2 linked regions of the Homo sapiens genome follow. The protein of the gene in region 1 interacts with the protein of each later gene in a biochemical or structural test. Each region holds a gene or a part of one and is shown on either strand. Other genes may lie near its edges. The genes, in order: UTS2R and UTS2B.

Region 1 (10,236 bases):
CTCCTGGGCTCAAGCGATCCTCCCACCTCAGCCTCCCAAAGTGTTAGGATTACAGATATGAGCCACTGCGCTCGGCCACGTTCCCTTATTTTCATCAAGCATCTCTGCCCCAGTGTCTGCGGCAGGATGGGCCTCTGGTCTCTAAGCACCTGAGAGGTGGAGTGGGTTCTGAACAAAGCATCCTCTTCAAGTCTGAAAAACACAAACATCAGGCTGGATGGGCACCTGAAAAGAGCCCCATGAAACCAGCTCTGTCTGTGGAACCTCATTTTCTACAGAATTTAGTAATCCAATTGGAAAGTACTTCTTTCACAAAAATTATCATTGCAAAACATAATGAACCCATTAAGTGCAGAGCAAAGCTTCAAAAGTCACATTTGTGGAAAATGGGAGCTTTATGATTATGATTTATGATTTAATGGTCCATAAAGTGAATCATAGGCAGGCAGAGCCACTTTGCACTAAAGCGCTGGGATTACAGGTGTGAGCCACCGCGCCCGGCCTGAAATGTGAATTCTTACACAACAACAAAGAGCTTTCCAACTGTGTAATTTCACTCACCCTTCTCCAGAGACCTGGTGCTATTGTTGTCTTGGATATTAGTTGACACGTGTTATCATCATCATGCGCCACCAGAGCTATTGCTGCATAGTCCTCATCTTTTTAATTTACAAACATATTTACCTTCCTGGTGCACTTCATTTTTCCATGCACTTCCGAGTTTCTATCTGGGGTCATTTTCTGTCAGCAGAAGGAAAGCCTGAGGAGCTCCTTTAGTATTTTTTTGTGCTGTGACAAATGTTCTTAGCTTTGTCTGAAAGTATCTATATTTTATTGTACATAAATTGTTGGTTAAAATTCTTTATTTTGGTACTTTAAAGAGGTCATTCTCTTTCGGTTTCCATGGTTTTCTGAGGAGATCTAGTCATCTTTCCTATTGTTATTCCCTGAATGCATTGTCTTTTTTTTTTTTTTAATCTCAATAATTTTTACAGTTTCTGTTTACCTTTGGTTTTTGGAATTTTTTACTACAATGCGCTGGAGTTGTTTGCTTTTAGTTTTTTCCTGCTTGTGATTTACTAAGATTCTAATGTCTGTAAGTTGACATTGCTTATCAATTTTGAAAATTTCAGCCACTGCCTTTTCAGATATTGCTCCTGCCCCATTTTCCTCTGTTGTTGATCTGGGGACTCCAGTGACATGTACGTCAGATCATTTGATGGTGTGGTTCCACAGGCTTTTCTGTTTTTCATTCTTTTCTCTTTCTGTGTCTGGATAATTTCTATTGACCTACCTTTAAGTTAACTGATTCTTTCTTCTGCTGTGATTTCTGAATTTTAGATACTGTACTTTTAAAAGTTATAAAATGTCCATTTGACCCTTGTGAGAAAGAAACTCATCCGTCCAAATCCAAAGAACTGACTCAGGGACCTGGAGAACAGCGAAAGCGAGGCTTTTAATGACGGCAAGATCGGGTGTCTGGTGGGCAGGCACACCCAGCAGTTTCAACAAGCAATTTATCCCCTAGTGCACAGATCCCTCCCCCGGTTCCTCATAGGCTGAGTACTCTGGGGTCACAGTCTTCCCGCATGTCGCCTATTGGTTGTTGGGCAGGGGCTGTAGGGCACAGGTCCCTCCCCAGCTTCCTCATAGGCTGAGTACTAGGGGATCACAGTCTTCCTGCATGTCGCCTATTGGTTGTTGGGCAGGGGCTGCAGGGTGCAGGTCCCTCCCCAGGTTCCTCATAGGCTGAGTACTCTCGGGTCACAATCTTCCCGGATGTCGCCTATTGGTTGTTGGGCAGGTGCTGTAGGTGTTTTCTTCAGGGTTGTCCTGCTGCATTTTGTTGCAGCCCACAATGCATTGCAATCCTAGTTAGCTCAGGGGCTCTTTAAGTATTTGACTTATGACCTAAGTAGCTGGGCAGGCTGATAAGAATAGATCAAACCAGCTATTTTGCAGGCTAGTAAAATTTCATCTTAAACTTCTTTGATTTGGGTGAGGGCAACTAAGAGGGGGTTAAAAGGGAGTGGATGAGGCCGACAAGCAGGCATCCACTATCCAAGCTGGGGCCTAGTATATCCTGTTCTTCTGTAGTTTGCTGACCTAAGCCGATTCAAGGCACACTGTCTTGGAAATGGACCACTGTATACATTATTTCCTTCACCCTTTAAAAAATTTTTTTAGAAATAGAAATGGAGGGTCTCATTATGTGCCCAGGCTGGTCTCAAACTTCTAGACTCGAGTGATCATCCTGCCTCAGTTTTCAAAAGTACTGGGATTGGCCGGGTGCGGTGGCTCATGCCTGTAATCCTAGCACTTTGGGAGGCCGAGGTGGGCAGATCACGAGGTCAGGAGTTCAAGACCAGCCTGGCCAAGATAGTGAAAGCCCATCTCTACTAAAAATACAAAAATTAGGCTGAGAGCGGTGGTGGGCACCTGTAATCCCAGCACTTTGGGAGGCCGAGGCGGGCGGATCACGAGGTCAGGAGATCGAGACCATCCTGGCTAACACAGTGAAACCCCGTCTCTACTAAAAATACAAAAAATTAGCCAGGCACGGTGGTGGGCACCTGTAGTCCCAGCTACTCGGGAGGCTGAGGCAGGAGAATGGCATGAACCCGGGAGGCAGAGCTTGCAGTGAGCCGAGATTGCGCCACTGCACTCCAGCCTGGGCGACCAGCGAGACTCTGTCTCAAAAAAAAAAAAAAAAATACAAAAATTAGTTGGGTGTGGTGGTGGGCACCTGTAATCCCAGTCACTCGGGAGGCTGAGGCAGAGAATTGCTTGAACCTGGGAGGCGGAGGTTGCAGTGAGTCAAGATCACGCCACTGCACTCCAGCCTGGGCGACAGAGTGAGACTCCATCTCAAAAAAAAAAAAAAAAAAAAAAGTGCTGGGATTACAGGTGTTAGCCACAGTGCCCAGCCTGGGAATTTCTAATAAAAGAGTCAAATGGGGTTGGGCGTAGTGGCTGGGCAACATGGTGAAACTTGTCTCTACAAAAAATACAAAAATTAGCCAAGTGTAGTGTAGCGGTGCATGTCTGTAGTCCCAGCTACTCGGGAGGTAGGAGAATTGCTTGAGTGTAGGAAGTCAAAGAAAGCTGCGGTGAGCCATGATCACACCCCTGCACTCCAGCCTGGGCGAGCCTAGGCTAGACCTTAGAGCGAGACCCTGTCTCAAATAAAGAAAGAAATACATTCCCATTTTCTGGTGAAAATTTCCATCTTTTCATGCATGTTGCCCAGGTTCTTCTGCTTGCTTTACTATATTTGTAACAGTTTTTGTAAAACAGAAACTCCTGGTCTGCTAATTCCAATACTTGTGTCACATATGGACCTGCTTCTATCGGCTATTTTTCCCCCATCAATTATGGATCACATAAGATATGAAGCAGCAAGGAAACAATAATCAGATTATTATTTCCTTGCTGAAGCATTTTATACATAGCAACTGTCAAAGTCCAAATATACAGACAAATCTTTAAGTTTAATGTTTAATTTTAGGAAGAATTTCAATTCGGTATGTTCAAGAACAAAAGAAAATCGGGATTCTTTTGGAAAGAGAAACGTTATCTATTGCTTTGAAAGAAAGCCCGTTGGCACTGGTAGTTCGGGGGAGCTGGCAAGCTCAGGCGAGTGGCCTCAGTGGTAAAACCAGCACTGGAGGCCAGGCACGGTGGCTCACGCCTGTAATCCTAGCACTTTGGGAGGCTGAGGTGGGCAGATCACCTGAGCTCAGGAGTTCGAGACCTACCCGGCCAACATGATGAAACCCCGTCTACTACAAACACAAAAATTAGCTGGGTGTGGTGGCGGGTGCCTGTAATCCCAGCTACTTGGGAGGCTGAGGCAGGAGAATTGCTTGAGCCTGGGAGGTGGAGGTTGCAGTGAGCCGAGGTTGCAGTGAGCCGAGATCGCACCACTGCACTCCAGCCCGGGTGAAAGAGTGAGACCCCATCTCAAAAAAATAAATAAATAAATAATAAAAAAATAAAATAAAAAATAAAAAACCCGGTGTTCGTGTCAGGGCAGGTCGTTTCAGCAGCTACTCGGTGAACTGGCTGAGGTGACAGCAGATCGTTTCGGCAGCTGGCTTGCGGGAAATTTAATTCTTGGAGCAGGCATTCTGGGTCCTGAGTGCTTTTCCCCAGCCCTAGCCCCTAGACTCCAGCTTAGTAATCAGCTCTCACAGAACCATCACGTCGGAGGCAGCCTTCCACCCCCTTTCCTCCCGCGCACAGGCAGGATGAGCTGCTCCCCTTTCGGGTCGGAAGCTGCAGCTGTATTTGGTTTCAGTTCGGCTGTTTTCAGCTCACAGAGAATGAACTGTCTTATTGTGTGACCCTTGCTCCGTCCAGCGGACGCTCGGAGACCAGAGGGACTTTTCCCGCCCTCTCCAGCCCAGCCTCGCCTCCCCAGCACGTGGCAAACGTCCCACGGAGGGGACTGGTGGGCATCTGGGGCTCCCCCGGATCCAGCTGATTGCAGGAGCCTCTCGGCCATTCACACTTGGCCACCTCCTCTCCCCCAGCAGAACCCCTTCAGCTTTAGGGGCCGGTCCGCGGCCTCAGGCAGCAGATGAGCCCCGGGCGGAGTGGAGTGGGCGAGGCCAGCTCCTCGCTGGGGGCCCTTTAGACCCCGTGTTCACAGCTCTCCAGCTCTCCTCTAGTCTAATTTATTAATGTTCTGTGTCTTTTTCTTTCAGGGGTTCAGCATGAGTGAAGGCCCACATCCTACCTCCGAGCAGCAAGTGAAACCGAGTGGGGGCCAGCACCCAGCTCAGGGGCTCGAGGGTGAGGCTGTGGGGTCCTTCCTCCTACCCCGCGGGGCCCTGCAGCTCCCAGCGTCACTTCCGTGGATGTGGCCACCACGAGTCCCTGCCGAGGCCTGGAGAGGCTGCGTGGGCTTCTAAGAGCATCTGTGGGAGACCCGCAACAGGGGCGGGGTCAAGGCCCCCAAAGAGCCCGTCCCCGCCTGGGCGGGTGACTCCCTCCCTCCCTTACCTCCTTTCTATGACCCTCTCGGGGTTTAGGGGTGTTCCTGCCCCCCACCTGCGCGCGGGCGGGTCCAGGGCTTGGTGGACACGGAGAATCCCAGGCTCCGTGCCCTGCAAACACGGGCGTGAGGGGCGCAGGGGTGAACGCTGGAGGCGGAGAACCCAAGAGGGGCTGCGGGGTCAGCCTTGGGGCAGCCGGGCTGGAGGCAGCTTCGCTCCGCAGACGCAGACGCGAGACCCGCCTGGGACCCTCCGCCGACCCCGCTGCGGCCCCGCGACCCCCGCGTCTTCCCGGCGCCGCGCGGTCAGCGCCGCCCCCTAGACACCCGGCGCCGTCCCCTCCGCGCGCCTGCTGCCCGCTGGGGTTATTTTAATACCGGGCCCTGGCGCGGGGCGCGGCGCATTCCCAGCTGGCGGCGGGCAGGTGGCGGCGGCGCAGAGACCCGGCGCGGGGCGGGGGGCGCGGCTTTGGTGGCGGGACTGGCGGGCGCCCCTGCCGTGTGCTCTGGAAGCCGAGGCCACCGCGGAGCCCCTCGCGCCCCCTCTGCGCTGGGACAGGGGAGCGCGCCTCGGAAAGTTCCCCGCGGCCCCGCTGCGCGAGGAGTTTGGAGCCGCGAGCGGCTGCCCCCACGCGCGACCCCAGGCTCGGCGGGCAGGTCTGGCCGCTCAGTGACCGGAGGCAGGTGGGTCCTCGGTGGGTGACCGGGAGCGCGCGGGGACTGCCGGGTCTGTGCCCTTCGGGGCCCTCCGCAGGGCTGGGCCGGGGTTTCGCGGTGGGAACCCACCCTGGGCGAGGGGAGCGGGGTCCAGCGAGGCGGCTTCTCCCGTGCCGTGGAACTTTCGGCCCCTCCCCTTCCCCCCTAGCGACCCTGGAGCAATCCTAGCGGCCCGGCGGCCGCTGTCCCCCTGCCCGTGACTCGGGCTCGCGCACAACTGGGGAGCCCGGTGCACCCTCGGCTTCTGCGCCGTCCCCTGGGTGAGGGCTCTGGAAATGCCCTGGGTGGGGGCAGCAAGGGGGTGAGGGTCCCCTGGACAGATGGAGCTGGGAGCTGCTCGGCCTGGTGGGAAAGGGCGGACAGGGCACATTTCCAGGCCCTGGAAGGCCCCCAGCGCCCCCACCTGTTGACAACTCCCCACCCCAGCCAAGACTGCTCCCTGCGCAGCCATGAGTGTTCGGCCTAAATTCAGCGTGGCTCGTGGAATCAGGCAGCCTCCTGTGTCTTGTTTCTTCAGCCCACCACCGCGCTGTTTCATCCAGGCTGCTGACCCCAGCGGCGACTCCTTCACTGGCTTCATGTCACAGTTTGCCTGCCCCGTCCACTGGGGACATTTGAGCTGTTTCCAGCTTCTTAGGAGTCAAGCTGCCGTGAACTTTCGCACGCTTGTCATTTTCTGAACGTTGGCAGCCCTTTATCTAAGGTACTAACCTGAGAGTAGAATTGCCGGGTGAGAAGGTATAGGCGGTCAACTCTGCAAATCGTGCCAATGGCTTTCCAAAGCGGCGGCACAGTCCAGGTTCCCAGCAACAGGAAACGGCAGGGCCAGCTCCTCCACAGCCCCCACGCCTGTTGACAAGGATATCTGCCTTTTCACGCGTTCATCCTTGTCAGCACGCAGGGGCTCCTGTGGCCCTGACTGGCATTTCCCTGCTTGTTGGCTGCGTGGGTGTCCTTTTCAGGAAGTCCCCGGTCACGGTTTTGGTCTCTTTTTTTCAAATGGGTTGTTTGTCTTTTCCTTACTAATTTGCAGTTCTTCCCTATATTTTTCTTACCAGCTTTTTGTCTATGTTTCTTCTTTTTTTTTTTCTCTGAGACAAAGTCTCACTTTGTTGCCCAGGCTGGAGTGCGGTGGCACAATCTCAATCTTGGCTCACTGCAACTTCCACCTCCCGAGTTCAAACAATTCTCCTGCCTCAGCCTCCCGAGCAGCTGGGATTACAGGCGTGTGCCACCATGCCCGACTAATTTTTGTATTTTTAGTAGAGACGGGGTTTCGAGATGTTGGCCAGGCCGGTTTCGAACTCCTGACCTCAGGTGATCCACTTGCCTAGGCCTCCTAAAGTGCTGGGATTACAGGCGTGAGCCACTGCAACTGGCCTGATATATGTTTTCTGATGATCTCCTAGCCTGTGGCTTATGATTTCGCTCTCTTGGTAAAGTTCTTAATTTTAATGAAACCCATTTGCTTAGTCTTTTATTGAAAGTATTTTTTGTTCATTTTTAAGAAATATTTTCCCATCCAAGGTTATGCCAGTATTCCCGTTTTCTTCCAGAACCTCGACTGACTGATTTAACCTTTCACACTTAGGCCTGCAATCCATCTTGAATTCGTTTCCCTGTATGAGAAATGGAGATTGCAGAGGCCTTCCTCTCCTTACATGTTCTTCTATTTGGACTTTTAAAGTCAGTAGCTACTAGTTTTGCAATCTAAAGAAAACATTTTTTTAAATGTACAAGTCAAATAAATACGAGAAAGGACTCAGGAGTAAGTGGGCCCCACCTGTGCACAGACAAGAAAGTGAGGCCTGGGGGGGCGCAATGGGCAGAGCCCAGGACTCCCAGTTCTGTCCACTGCCGACCTCTGCCCCAGGGGCTGCCCTCCTGTGTTCCGGCTTTCAGAAAAGCCCAGTTCATCCCAGAGGCCATGGGACCTACAGTGAGGGGGGGGCAGGGGTCCTGCTGGGGCATGCGGGGGTCGGGGAGGGGGGTTGGGGCAGCTCGTCTGGTGGCTCTTGAGTCCTCCTGCAGAGCTGGTGGCTTCCAGAGAGTCCCGAGAGTTGGAGGGCACTGGGGAGCCCACGTGACTCTGTGGGAACGAGGCCATCACAGTGGCCTCCTGGGAGCGGAAGGTGTTGCCTGATTTGCTTCTTTCCCCACAGGCTGAGCTGGTTGCCCACAGGGGCCCCCGCCCCATCTCAGGGAGTGTCCACCCAGCCCTGAGCCCGTCGTGAGGGGTCAGAGATGGCGCTGACCCCCGAGTCCCCGAGCAGCTTCCCTGGGCTGGCCGCCACTGGCAGCTCTGTGCCGGAGCCGCCTGGCGGCCCCAACGCAACCCTCAACAGCTCCTGGGCCAGCCCGACCGAGCCCAGCTCCCTGGAGGACCTGGTGGCCACGGGCACCATTGGGACTCTGCTGTCGGCCATGGGCGTGGTGGGCGTGGTGGGCAACGCCTACACGCTGGTGGTCACCTGCCGCTCCCTGCGTGCGGTGGCCTCCATGTACGTCTACGTGGTCAACCTGGCGCTGGCCGACCTGCTGTACCTGCTCAGCATCCCCTTCATCGTGGCCACCTACGTCACCAAGGAGTGGCACTTCGGGGACGTGGGCTGCCGCGTGCTCTTCGGCCTGGACTTCCTGACCATGCACGCCAGCATCTTCACGCTGACCGTCATGAGCAGCGAGCGCTACGCTGCGGTGCTGCGGCCGCTGGACACCGTGCAGCGCCCCAAGGGCTACCGCAAGCTGCTGGCGCTGGGCACCTGGCTGCTGGCGCTGCTGCTGACGCTGCCCGTGATGCTGGCCATGCGGCTGGTGCGCCGGGGTCCCAAGAGCCTGTGCCTGCCCGCCTGGGGCCCGCGCGCCCACCGCGCCTACCTGACGCTGCTCTTCGCCACCAGCATCGCGGGGCCCGGGCTGCTCATCGGGCTGCTCTACGCGCGCCTGGCCCGCGCCTACCGCCGCTCGCAGCGCGCCTCCTTCAAGCGGGCCCGGCGGCCGGGGGCGCGCGCGCTGCGCCTGGTGCTGGGCATCGTGCTGCTCTTCTGGGCCTGCTTCCTGCCCTTCTGGCTGTGGCAGCTGCTCGCCCAGTACCACCAGGCCCCGCTGGCGCCGCGGACGGCGCGCATCGTCAACTACCTGACCACCTGCCTCACCTACGGCAACAGCTGCGCCAACCCCTTCCTCTACACGCTGCTCACCAGGAACTACCGCGACCACCTGCGCGGCCGCGTGCGGGGCCCGGGCAGCGGGGGAGGCCGGGGGCCCGTTCCCTCCCTGCAGCCCCGCGCCCGCTTCCAGCGCTGTTCGGGCCGCTCCCTGTCTTCCTGCAGCCCACAGCCCACTGACAGCCTCGTGCTGGCCCCAGCGGCCCCGGCCCGACCTGCGCCCGAGGGTCCCAGGGCCCCGGCGTGAGCACGCGGAGGGGCGGCTGGAGTCCAGGCGGGGACGCGCCCCAAAGCCCCAGCCACTCCCGGGAGCCCCCCCAACTCCCAAATCACAGGCCCTGCCCCTCCTCCGTCCCCTTCTGGAAAGATCCTGCTCGCTTCCCCTCAGCGCCCTTCCCGTGATGCCCAGAAGCGCCCACCCGCCTCCCTGAGGGTCTCCAGGAGGCTCCAGCGCAGTCCCGGCTTCTGGAGACCATGGCTTCGTCACAGAGGGCAGCAGGCGCCAGTGCCCGGCCCGTGTGGAGACCATGGCGCGGCTGCCGCCCCCGGGACCCTCCTCCTCTCAGCCAGCGGCCCTGTGACTCCTGTTCCTGCCTGTGTGGCTCCATCCCTTGTGGCTTTGCCACTGGAACAATCAACCCTGAGCTGGCTTCCGTGTCCTGCCTAGGCGCGGGGGACGCCACATCTGAGGTGTGGGAGGATCGGCCGGCAGGATCCCCAGGACGACAACGGCAGCTCAAGGGGGAGCCTGTGGGTCTGGCTGGGGTAGAGGGTGCACCTGCCTTTGAGGCCTGTGCAGGCGGCTGGTCTGGCACCTGATGTGGGGCAGGGAAGGTGGCCAGGAGGGGAGGCTCCAGCTGAGGGGTGGAGCAGGGAAGGCACTGCCCAGCAGAGGCCTGAGGCTTTGGGTGCAGAACGCAAGAGGACAAGGTCAGTGGCCGCACCTACAGGCCTCCTGGCCTCTCATCCACGTCTGGCTCAGGTCTGATCAGAAAGGGAATCCAGGTCCCACCTCACAGTAGCATTGGCAGTCTCTGCCCCACTCACCCCTCACTGCCTCCTGGACAGACTTCCTGCCCCAGCTCCCAGCTTGGCCAACCATCCTCTCTCTGGCGACTGCCCCCCTCCAGCCCCCAGCCCGGCCCCGGACCCTGCATGGCCTCCCCCAGCCTGGCCTCCCCTCCCCACCCCATGGCCATGCCCAGACTACCAGCCCCTTGGGGCTCCATCTGAACACTGGGGCAAGGGTCATGCCCGCTTGGTCCCTCCAGTGCCTACCCCTCAGTGGAGTGAGCACAGCTCTGCTGGCAGGACTGTGGCCGGCGTCAGGAATAAGCATGCAGCGCTCTCCCC
Region 2 (9,885 bases), on another chromosome or scaffold:
GGATGTGGTCAAAGGGAACTGTCATGAGTCATACTGGTGGCAGAGCCAATTCCCCAATGTTTATAGCGTACACCATTCATCATTTACATAAAGTAAAACCCCAACCAGCTTTCTGGTGTCACTTAATGGCTGTCTTGTTAACTCTTGTATTCTCCGTTTTTAGCATGATGCTAGGAGTTGGACAGCTATATTTGTAGCAGATGTCTATCAACAATATATTAAAAGATTAAAGAAAGGTACAATATTTCACAGTAAGCGTAAGTTTTTACTGTCTTAAGCTGGATTTCTGGGTCTATTTCATCCTCATATATTGTTATTCACAGTGGTTAGTCTCTAGTTATGGCAACAGCACTGCACTTCATGTATAACGTGGATTATGTTCAGCTTTGTCACCGAAGCTGGAGTGCAGTGGCACAACCATAGCTCACTGCAACCTCGAACTCCTTGGCTCAAGGGACCCTCCAGTCTCAATCTCATGAGTACTTGGGACTACTAGCATGGGTCACCACACCAGGCTAATTTTTTAAATTTGTTGTAGAGACACAGCCTCCCTATATTGGCCAGGCTGGTCTCAGACGATTGGGCACAAGTGATTCTCCTGCCTTGGCCTCCCAAAGTAGTGGGATTGCAGGTGTGAGCCACTGGTACCTGACCTACAAACATGTTGTAATATCTACTTTCTTAAAAATAAACAAAAAAGGTTTTTTTTTTATGCTTTCAAATCATTCTAGCTGATATACCAATTTTTTTTCTATTCCTTAGCACAAAATTCTTTAAGAGAATTTTCTATTGTCAGTGGTTCCAGTTCTATAGTCATGTTTTCTTTAACAAAAAGTTCACCAAACAATCCTTGGCAAGGCCATTAATGACCTTTCCTCTGCTGAATTCAACTGGAAGTTCTCAGTCCTCATTTTACTGGATCTATCATAGTGAAATCAGCCCCATAGACCCATAGAGAGTTGTTTTTGGATAATCAGAAATTGACCCTTCTGCTGTTAAAGCTTAAAGCTTGTATTTGTTTTAGGTGAGTTTCTTCCTCAGGAAATGACCTTTAGGCCTCCCAAAAAAAACTGTCAAAGGGCCAGTTGTGGTGGCTCATGCCTGTAATCCCAGCACTTTGGGAGGACGAGGCTGGCAGACATGAGGTCAGGAGATCGAGACCATTCTGACCAACATGGTGAAATCCTGTCTCTACTAAAAATACAAAAATTAGCTGAGGGTGGTGGCCACATGCCTGTAGTCCCAGCTACTTGGGTGGCTGAGGCAGAAGAATCGCTTGAACACGGGAGGCAGAGGTTGCAGTGAGCAGAGATCACACCACTGCACTCCAGCCTGGTGACAGAGTGAGACTCTCTCAAAAAAAAAAAAAAAAAAAAAAAAAAGAGGTATCAAAGAACTGAAACTCACCAGATCACCCCATCCAGACAATGAGATATTGGACCACTCATTCATTATGATTGCTTCCTTGCCTTTCTCACACGTAGTTACATTTCTTCCCTGCTATATTAACCCTAGTTTTAGTGAGTTAGAGAGATGGATTTGAGACTGAGCTTCCATCTCCTCAGCTGCAGCACCCAATTAAAGCCTTCTTCCTTGGCAATACTTGTCTCAGTGATCAGCTTTCTGTGCAGTGAGCTGTAGGACCTAGACTGAACCCCTGGTGTTTTGGTAACAATAGCTTTGGATAGACTTAAACTCCTTTTTCCCAGAAACAGTTTTTTTACTTGACTTGTGGGTGTTGCTTTCTTGCCTCCTTCTTTGTACCTACTCCTACTCAGCCTCTTTTGTTGACTCTGCCTCATCTGCTCAGTTTCTTCCCTTGGAATGATCTGAGTCTCAGTTTTTAGGTATCTTTTCCTTATATTTGGAGTCACTCCTTAGATGCTCTCGTCACAATGCCAAACAATATTTATAATGCTGATAACTGCCAAATGTATATCTCTAATCTGGGCTGACTGAAGATATAAGATTCATATTCACTAACTTCAGATTCATACATCTAATCTTCTACTCAATTTACTCCTGGAAGATTTATTAAATATGGCATAACAAACCCAAAATATGTGGTAGGAATACAACTCTTCAGCTATTCCTAAGACTTCTCTGTATTTCCTAGGGATCCCACATCCCCATTAAGTTAAATTGGGATCATGTGCATAGCTCTGGCAGTTAAAAGCATATTTACCTGCTTCATCTCTTTCCTATCCTACTATAGGTACATTGGAGACCACGTGTTCCACATAGTGTATGCATGAAGTGAAGGAAAAATGGTCAACATATGTAAGACCTCATGTAAACTCGGTCAAAATTATAGAAAGTTGCATCACTGAGATTTAAAGGCTATTTTATCAGCTTGCTAAGCATATCCCAATATACAGTTTGATAACGTGAAGTGAGGGTGCTGCTGTAAAACATACCTAAAATCTGACACAGTATCAGCAACTCATTAATGGCAGACAAGGAAACTGATATCATAGGTTTGAAAAATTAAGAGTTATTTTATTAAATGGCAAAATAAGTGCTAAAACTCGCATCTGCAACAGCTTGGGATTCAGATCATGTGCCTAGAGCTCCTAGAAGAAAGGCTGGAAAAGAGTAAATTGGCAAGCAGTATATTTAGTTTGCTGTTGATTGCGATTATCCTTTCCCTGTTCCTTTGCTAATTGTTGGATATGTATGGGGTGAATAATAACTCATCTTTTCAGTTAATAGGTCTGTGAATGAAGAGTAGCTTGGCTGGGCATGGTGGCTCATGCCTGTAATCCCAGCACTTTGGGAGGCAGAAGCGGGTGGATCACCTGAGGTCAGGAGTTCGAGAACAGCCTGGCCAATATGGTGAAACCTGTCTCTACTGAAAATACAAAAAATTAGCTGGGCGTGGTGGTGCGTGCCTGTTATCCTAGCTACTTGGGAGGCTGAGGCAGGAGAATAGCTTGAACCCAAAAGGCGAAGGTTGCAGTGAGCCGAGGTAGCGTGCCATTGCACTCCAGCCTAGGCAACAAGAGCAAAACTCCGTCTAAAAAAAAAAAAAAAAAATGGGCAGGGCACAGTGCCTCATGTCTGTAATCCCAGCACTTTGAGAGCTCAAGGCAGGTGGATCACCTGAGGTCAGGAGTTTGAAACCAGCCTGGCCAACATGATGAAACCCCCATCTCTACTAAAAATACAAAAAAATTAGCTGGGCTTGGTGGCGCCCACCTGTAGTCCCATCTACTCGGGAGGCTGAGGCAGGTGAATAGCTGGAACCTGGGAGGCAGAGGTTGCAGTGAGCCGAGATCGCACCACTGCACTCCAGCCTGGGCTACAGAGCGAGACTCCGTCTCAAAAAAAAGGAGTGGCCACATTATATCTGATGAAGACTAGTAAATATATCCTGGAAAGCCTGTTATTTGTGCTGCATGCAGTCACTAGAAGAGATTTGGGGTTGTCTCTAATGAGAATGAGTTGAGTATAGTCTATGTTTTTAAGAAGAGATAAAGGATAGACTATGATAGAGGCAGTGCTCACCAAGTACTATAGGTACTTCCTTACATTTACCAACCTGCCTTGCCATATGTTGGTGGTAGTCCCAGTGACTAATCCCGGCCAATGGACTTCAGTAGAAATGATGTGTGTCCCTTCCGAACTGAGGCAATTGAAAGCTGGGATGTATCCTTTATCCTCTTCTGTTTTGGCAATGTTGGAGGCAGTTAAGCTGTATCAACGTTCTGGATGATAGGGCTACAGAATAGAGTGGTGCTGTGCTGTGCTGCAAGCATTGGACTCGATTCCCGACTTTATTACACCATGCCTCTGAGATTTAGATTACAACTGTTAACACCTAATAGCCTAAGCTATACTGATTCAGGAAAGGTCCAACAAATCTCTATTTCAACCTTTCTCTTGTACTTTCTTCTCCTCCAGTTATCCTTGGCTCAATAAACAGAAACTGTCCTTTGTTCCTAGTTGCTCAAAACAAAATCCTTGGAGTAATTTTTGACACCTGCCTATTTTTTACACTTCATGTGTAATTCTCCAGCACATTTTGTTGACTTTTATTTGAAATATATCCAGAATCAGACCAGCCTAACCAACATGGTGAAACCCATCTCCACTAAAGATACAAAACTTAGCCGGGAGTGATGGTGCATGCCTGTAATCCCAGCTACTTGGGAGGCTGAGGCAGGAGAATTGCTTGAACCCCAGAGACAGAGGTTGCAGTGAGCCGAGATTGTGCCATTGCACTCCAGCCTGGGCAGTGAAACTCCGTCTCAAAGAAAAAAAAAAAGCCACTAAATTCCCTCCCTCCTACCCTCCACTTCATCTTCTGCCACTTCATCCTTCACCCTTACTGGCTAAGTCACTTAGCAGTTGGGTTATTTTCAGCATTAAATTTAACCCTTCTGAGATGCAGTTTTCTCGTCTATAAAAAAAGTCATATTAATAGCTATTGTATGGGATTCATGTAGAAAATAATTGTAGTAATAATGATCAAAATAATTTTTTAAGTTAAGCTTACATAGTACTTACTACATACTAGGAATTATTTTAAATTAAATTAACTCATGTACTCCTCCCAACAATCCCATGAAGATTATTATCATTATCCGCATTTTTAGGCAAAGAAAATGAGGCAGAGAAAATTAGATAACTCTCCAAGGTTGCGTAGGTAGTCAAAGTTAAAATTTGAACCCAGGCAGTCTAGCTCTAGAGTCTGAATGCTTAATGACTATATTTTGAGACATTAAAATATAAAATGTCTGGTATATGTTTAGGGCTTAACACTGGTTCATCTTCTTCCCTCAATAATATTGTTAAAATATGATTTTACAGAAGTTAAAGACAAATCTGGTATAGGGGACAAGTAAAAATAAATATGACTTAGGAAATCTCTCATCACTACATGAACAAAGAAACAGGAATACATTTTTTTCAAAAATAAAAACAAAGTAAGAAACAATAATTTCCTAGGAAAAATTATCCAAAAGCATAATCCAAAAAAGTAATCTTTCTAAAATTAAATGCTATGAATCGAACCTTGGAACAAGTGTTATAGCAACGAAGTTTCCCCTTATGTCAGAATAGATTCTATGGAATTTTAAATTGACTTAAAATGGATTATTTCTATTTGTGGTCTTTGCTGCTTCAGTGTTTAAGCCAAAATAGCAAGAGTAAGCCAGAGTTTATACAATAAGGACCTATTTTATTTAAACCTGAGAAGTGTGAACTTGCCCCGTTGTAAACACCAGAAAGCTCAAATACATTTATATGGTAACACTTTTATTGGAATATATTTTTTTAATATGAGCCTTTATATTGGTCACCACCATAAGATTAAGAAATGCCAACTGAATCTTCTTCCTCTCAGAAATTACTGCAAAAATAATCTTTTGGAAGTCAATCTTAAAACCTTGAAATGAAAGCTTACCTCGTTTGCTAGGATGAGAAGAGAATAGACCATCTACAGCATAGGACGTCTCAGAATCCTTCTCCTCCACTAGCTGTTCTTTTAGCTTTTCCAGCTGATAAAATTGTAAAATGATAATTAATTGGTCTTCTATAAAACCATGCTGTTGACCGGGCGCGGTGGCTTATGCCTGTAATCCCAGCACTTCGGGAGGCCGAGGCAGGCAGGTCACGAGGTCAGGCGATCAAGACCATCCTGGCTAACACAGTGAAACTCCGCCTCTACTAAAACTACAAAAAATTAGCTGGGCGTGGTAGCAGGCACCTGTAGTCCCAGCTACTCGGGAGGCTAAGGCAGGAGAATGGCGTGAACCCAGGAGGTGGAGACTGCAGTGAGCCGAGATTGCACCACTGTACTTCTGCCAGGGCAACAGAGCAAGACTCCATCTCAAAAAAACAAAAAACAAACAACAAAAAAAAAACCATGCTGCTCTCTGTTGAAGAGGAAAGATAAAAAGAAAGAAAAAAAAAGAGAGAAAATGGATGAAAGAAAGGAAGAGAGAAAAAGGGGGAAATAGAAACAAAGGAAGAAAAAAACAAAAAAGAGAGAAGAAAAACAGGGAGCATGCATTCAGGGGCTGACTAGGAAAGGTACATGACTCAACAAAAGATCAGAAAGAAACAGGTTTTGGGCAAAGGAAGTCACCTCTGGGTGTTAATGGGGAACATGTAAATACAGCCTGTGTACTTGGACTTCATTTTGTGCCACCTATAATGAGCAGGTCTTTTCAAGGAGCTACAAATTATTGTGTCAATACTTGGATTTCCTGAATTTTTTGTCTTTTCTAGCTGGAAGGAAAAAGTATTTTGAGGCCTTAAGGTTTCCATCCAGAATTCAACTTATTTTAATTTTTAATTTTAATAAGGTTACTAATTGCCTTAGGCCCTGAAGAGCTAACTACAAAAGTAGGGTTCAGCCTGGACCACTCTTTATCTCCATGTTGGTGCTACTCAGAAGAGAATGATGAGAATAGTTCTCTCTCCCAAAGGGCCAGTTTGCAGAATAATGGAATTGCACGGAGAAAAGGGTGTTACTAGGGGTCCCCGTCAAGAAGGCAGCACTTTAGGCTCTTCACACCAGCTGCTTCAAGCCAAACAGCTTGACTTTTACATGTTTCATTTGCTGGGAAAACATAACATTTGGGGGAAAAAAGATTCCCACTGTTTAAAAACAATAACATCCATCTATTTACAGCCTCCCATTCTACAGATGAGGAGATTTCAGTCTAGAGAATTTGTTTGCCCCAGGTTTCACAGTTTGGTAATTGCAAAGCTAAAATTAGAATCCAGATTTCTAGACATTATAAAGAATGATCACTTCAGCCATAGTTTTGTTTTGTTTTGTGTTAGTATAACTTGATTTTTCTTTTTCTACAAAACAGCTTCACGCTTTGTTTAGCAGGAATAAAAGTTTTACATTGTAGTATTAATAATTTATTTTAAAAAACATTGTGTCAAGAAGAAATTTCCTTATAATTGTTATTAAAACTGCTCATTTAAGTATTTCACATTCTCACCTGGTTAAGTTCTTCCAGTTTGTTAGGTAAGGCTAGGTCTGCAAGACACATTTGTCACATGAAAAAACGTACATTGCAAGTAATATTTAATTTGCTTCAGTACACACATTTAAGATCTTACGTAGAAAGCATAGGTCTTTTTCATATGATTTGACATCACCCATCCATTCCTAATATAAAACCTCCAGTATATTTCTCAATGCCCATAGTATTGAAATGCAATCAGTTATGTCATCTGAAATATGTAATTTTCAACAATTAGCACAAAGTTTTTCTAACGTAGACCATAGTTCTAGCATGACCTATTATTTAGAAATAAACTATTTTTGCTGGCATGTGGAAATTCTCATAAAACAACATTAAATGGGGTTGTGGGCGGGGGGAAGCAAGCCATGTATTCTATGTATAATTCAATCGAGAAGAAAATTCTCCAAAATACTAAGGCTAACTTGCTCCAGGTTTTAAAATTTGGGTATAAATTTTTTGTTTTTATAAATTTCACTTATTTTTCAATAAGAATATATTACTTTTAGTTTAAAAACCCTGAATTTTAAAAGTATTTATTAAGTTATTCTTTTAACCAGCATTTTGTTCTATGAATACAGACATGTTTAGATTACTTCAGATGTTGTATGGGAGAGTAGCACGGTATCATATTGTCACATTTTCTCTTAAGCTAGACTTGTTAAATTTCTGACAAAATCTCAGTCATTTCTTGGAGGACAATCTCATGGATATTTGTAAGTCAGATTCTCTTGTTCTTCAAATAAAAATAATTTCAATTGGTGTAGCCTAAATTTTTCATTCATCATCTGTACTCCAACTGTTTCCTAAAATTGAAAGAATTTGATTAAAATAATGCTAAATTAACTACAACAAAGCTGCAGTTAATTTGTGAAATTTCTAGAAGAAACCTATAACTATAATACTTTTGAAACATTTAAGAAAATAAAATACTAGTGGTACTAGTGGAGAATTGCATAGATGAGAAGAAAATATGAATAAAGGTAACCTTTTTTTTTAACTATATGTTTACCAATCCCATTAGGACCCTCAAATTGACCAAAATAGGCTATTAATATTTGTTAATAACTCCATGGATTTAACATAAATATAAAACAAAAAAATCACTTAAATCTTTAGTGTAGCATATAAAAGAGTAATTATTTCATTTAATATAAATTAACATTTAGAAAAAGCAAGTCTCAAGACAAAATAAATTGTTATTTTTTAATAAATAGAGCTTGACTTTATGTTTAACTCACCAGTGTTGAAAGGTCTTTGGAAATCAAAATTTTTATTCAGTAGAGCCAGCAATAGTTCCTCACGATTTGTATATTTTTTATCTGGAAATATTTCATTTCCTATAATGATCAAAAACCACCATTTTCAATTTGAGTCACCGAAAATATTTCTAATTAAATTGGTCTTACAGGCTACTATCAATTTGTATATTTGACAACGAAAGAAATGTAGAGAGAGTGTATAGTCTGAAGGGATGGGTAATTTAAGAAATTATTGAATATATATTGAATGAATATGGACAGTCAGACAGACACAGAGAGAGAATATATGCATATACCTGGAGGTTGCACCCTAAAGTTTTACCTGTGATTACTTCTGAGTAGAAGAATTGGAGGTGAATTTTACTTTCTTCTTTTTAATCTGTGTTTCTGGAATTTTCTACTATTTTATTTAAAATAAGTATAAACTAAAAGTAGTTTTCAAAATAAAAATATAGCATTCTATTTTGTGATTTTATCTGATATACACATTTATATACACATTTATATATATAAGCCAGTTTGTGTTCCGGGAATTTCCTTCAAAGCATCCAAGGAAGATTGTGGCAAAGCTAGGATGGTGTCTACCTCTTCCGTATTAACATCTTTTAATCTTTGTCAATTTACCTCACAGCCATTCATTCCTCAGGTCCCTAAATGTCTCAGTACTGTAATTATCTTCATTCTGGAGTAGAAATTGAGACAAGAGACTTCTAGCAAGCTATAAAACATGAAGATTCAAAAAAAATCCATTGACAATTCAATTGAAATAATAATTAGTATATTACCATGAACTTTAGTGAGATGGTCTGAAAAATCAAACCTTTATCACATAATTTCTGTAAGATCATCTTTTCTTCTCCCTGCCTCTTTGTATTAACTGTTAGAGTGTGAGTAAAAGCAATATTAATGAGATTTAAGTTTAGGAGTGAGTACTGTGGTTTCAGCTAGAGAAATGGCTTATAAGTTGACTGGACTATTTCTTAAAATTACCTGTCTTTCCTGTCTCTACAAAATGTCAGTTGATAAATTCAAACACTTAAATGGCTAATTAAAAGAAGAAAATGAATAATTTGGGGCAAGTGACAGGATCACAGTTTTCTACATTAACCAAAGATACCTAATTGTTGCTCAATTCTTCAATTTTCTTTGCTTCATACACATAAAAATTATTGGTAAAATTTTCTTTTGAGTATTTAAAATACCAACAGAATATCAAATTTTGCTCAGCATCAATTATACAAAGACTCTCAGAGATAGTTTAGTTTAAAAGAAAAACATTATTATGAAATAATGTAATTTTTATTTTAATCATTCATTAAAAATGTTAAATTGTAATCTTTAAAATGTTTTCATTGAAAAAAGAAGGGATATTTCAGAGCCAGATAATAATTACTTGTTTCAGAAAGACAACTATGGTAAGAGAAACAGATCCATTACCTTCAATTTAGAAAATGTATATGACTAAGAGTAATGTAACTAGAAGAGTATGGATCTAAAGCTTTTTTCCCCTTAATTCACAATCCATTCCTCTGCATAGTTAAGTGAAACATTTTTCAAAAAACAAAACTGATAGATTTGCCTTTCTTTATTAGTTTTGCTTCCGATAATTATACCTCCATAACTCTTTGTCCTCAGAA

What was found.
Region 2: the proteins of UTS2R (region 1) and UTS2B form a complex in vitro, tested with the Homo sapiens proteins (one study listed by BioGRID).

What each region holds. Positions count from the first base shown.
Region 1 is NC_000017.11:82,366,365-82,376,600, forward strand, and holds the start of UTS2R (urotensin-2 receptor), read left to right. Parts: upstream 1-5,400; 5' UTR 5,401-5,683; intron 5,684-6,233; 5' UTR 6,234-6,419; intron 6,420-7,878; 5' UTR 7,879-7,960; coding exon 7,961-9,130; 3' UTR 9,131-10,236. UniProt on the Homo sapiens protein: High affinity receptor for urotensin-2 and urotensin-2B. The activity of this receptor is mediated by a G-protein that activate a phosphatidylinositol-calcium second messenger system.
Region 2 is NC_000003.12:191,269,845-191,279,729, forward strand, and holds part of UTS2B (urotensin-2B precursor), read right to left. Parts: intron 8,327-9,885; coding exon 8,228-8,326; intron 7,001-8,227; coding exon 6,963-7,000; intron 5,502-6,962; coding exon 5,408-5,501; intron 3,721-5,407; coding exon of another isoform or gene 3,656-3,720; exon of another isoform or gene 3,287-3,655; intron 1-3,286. UniProt on the Homo sapiens protein: Potent vasoconstrictor.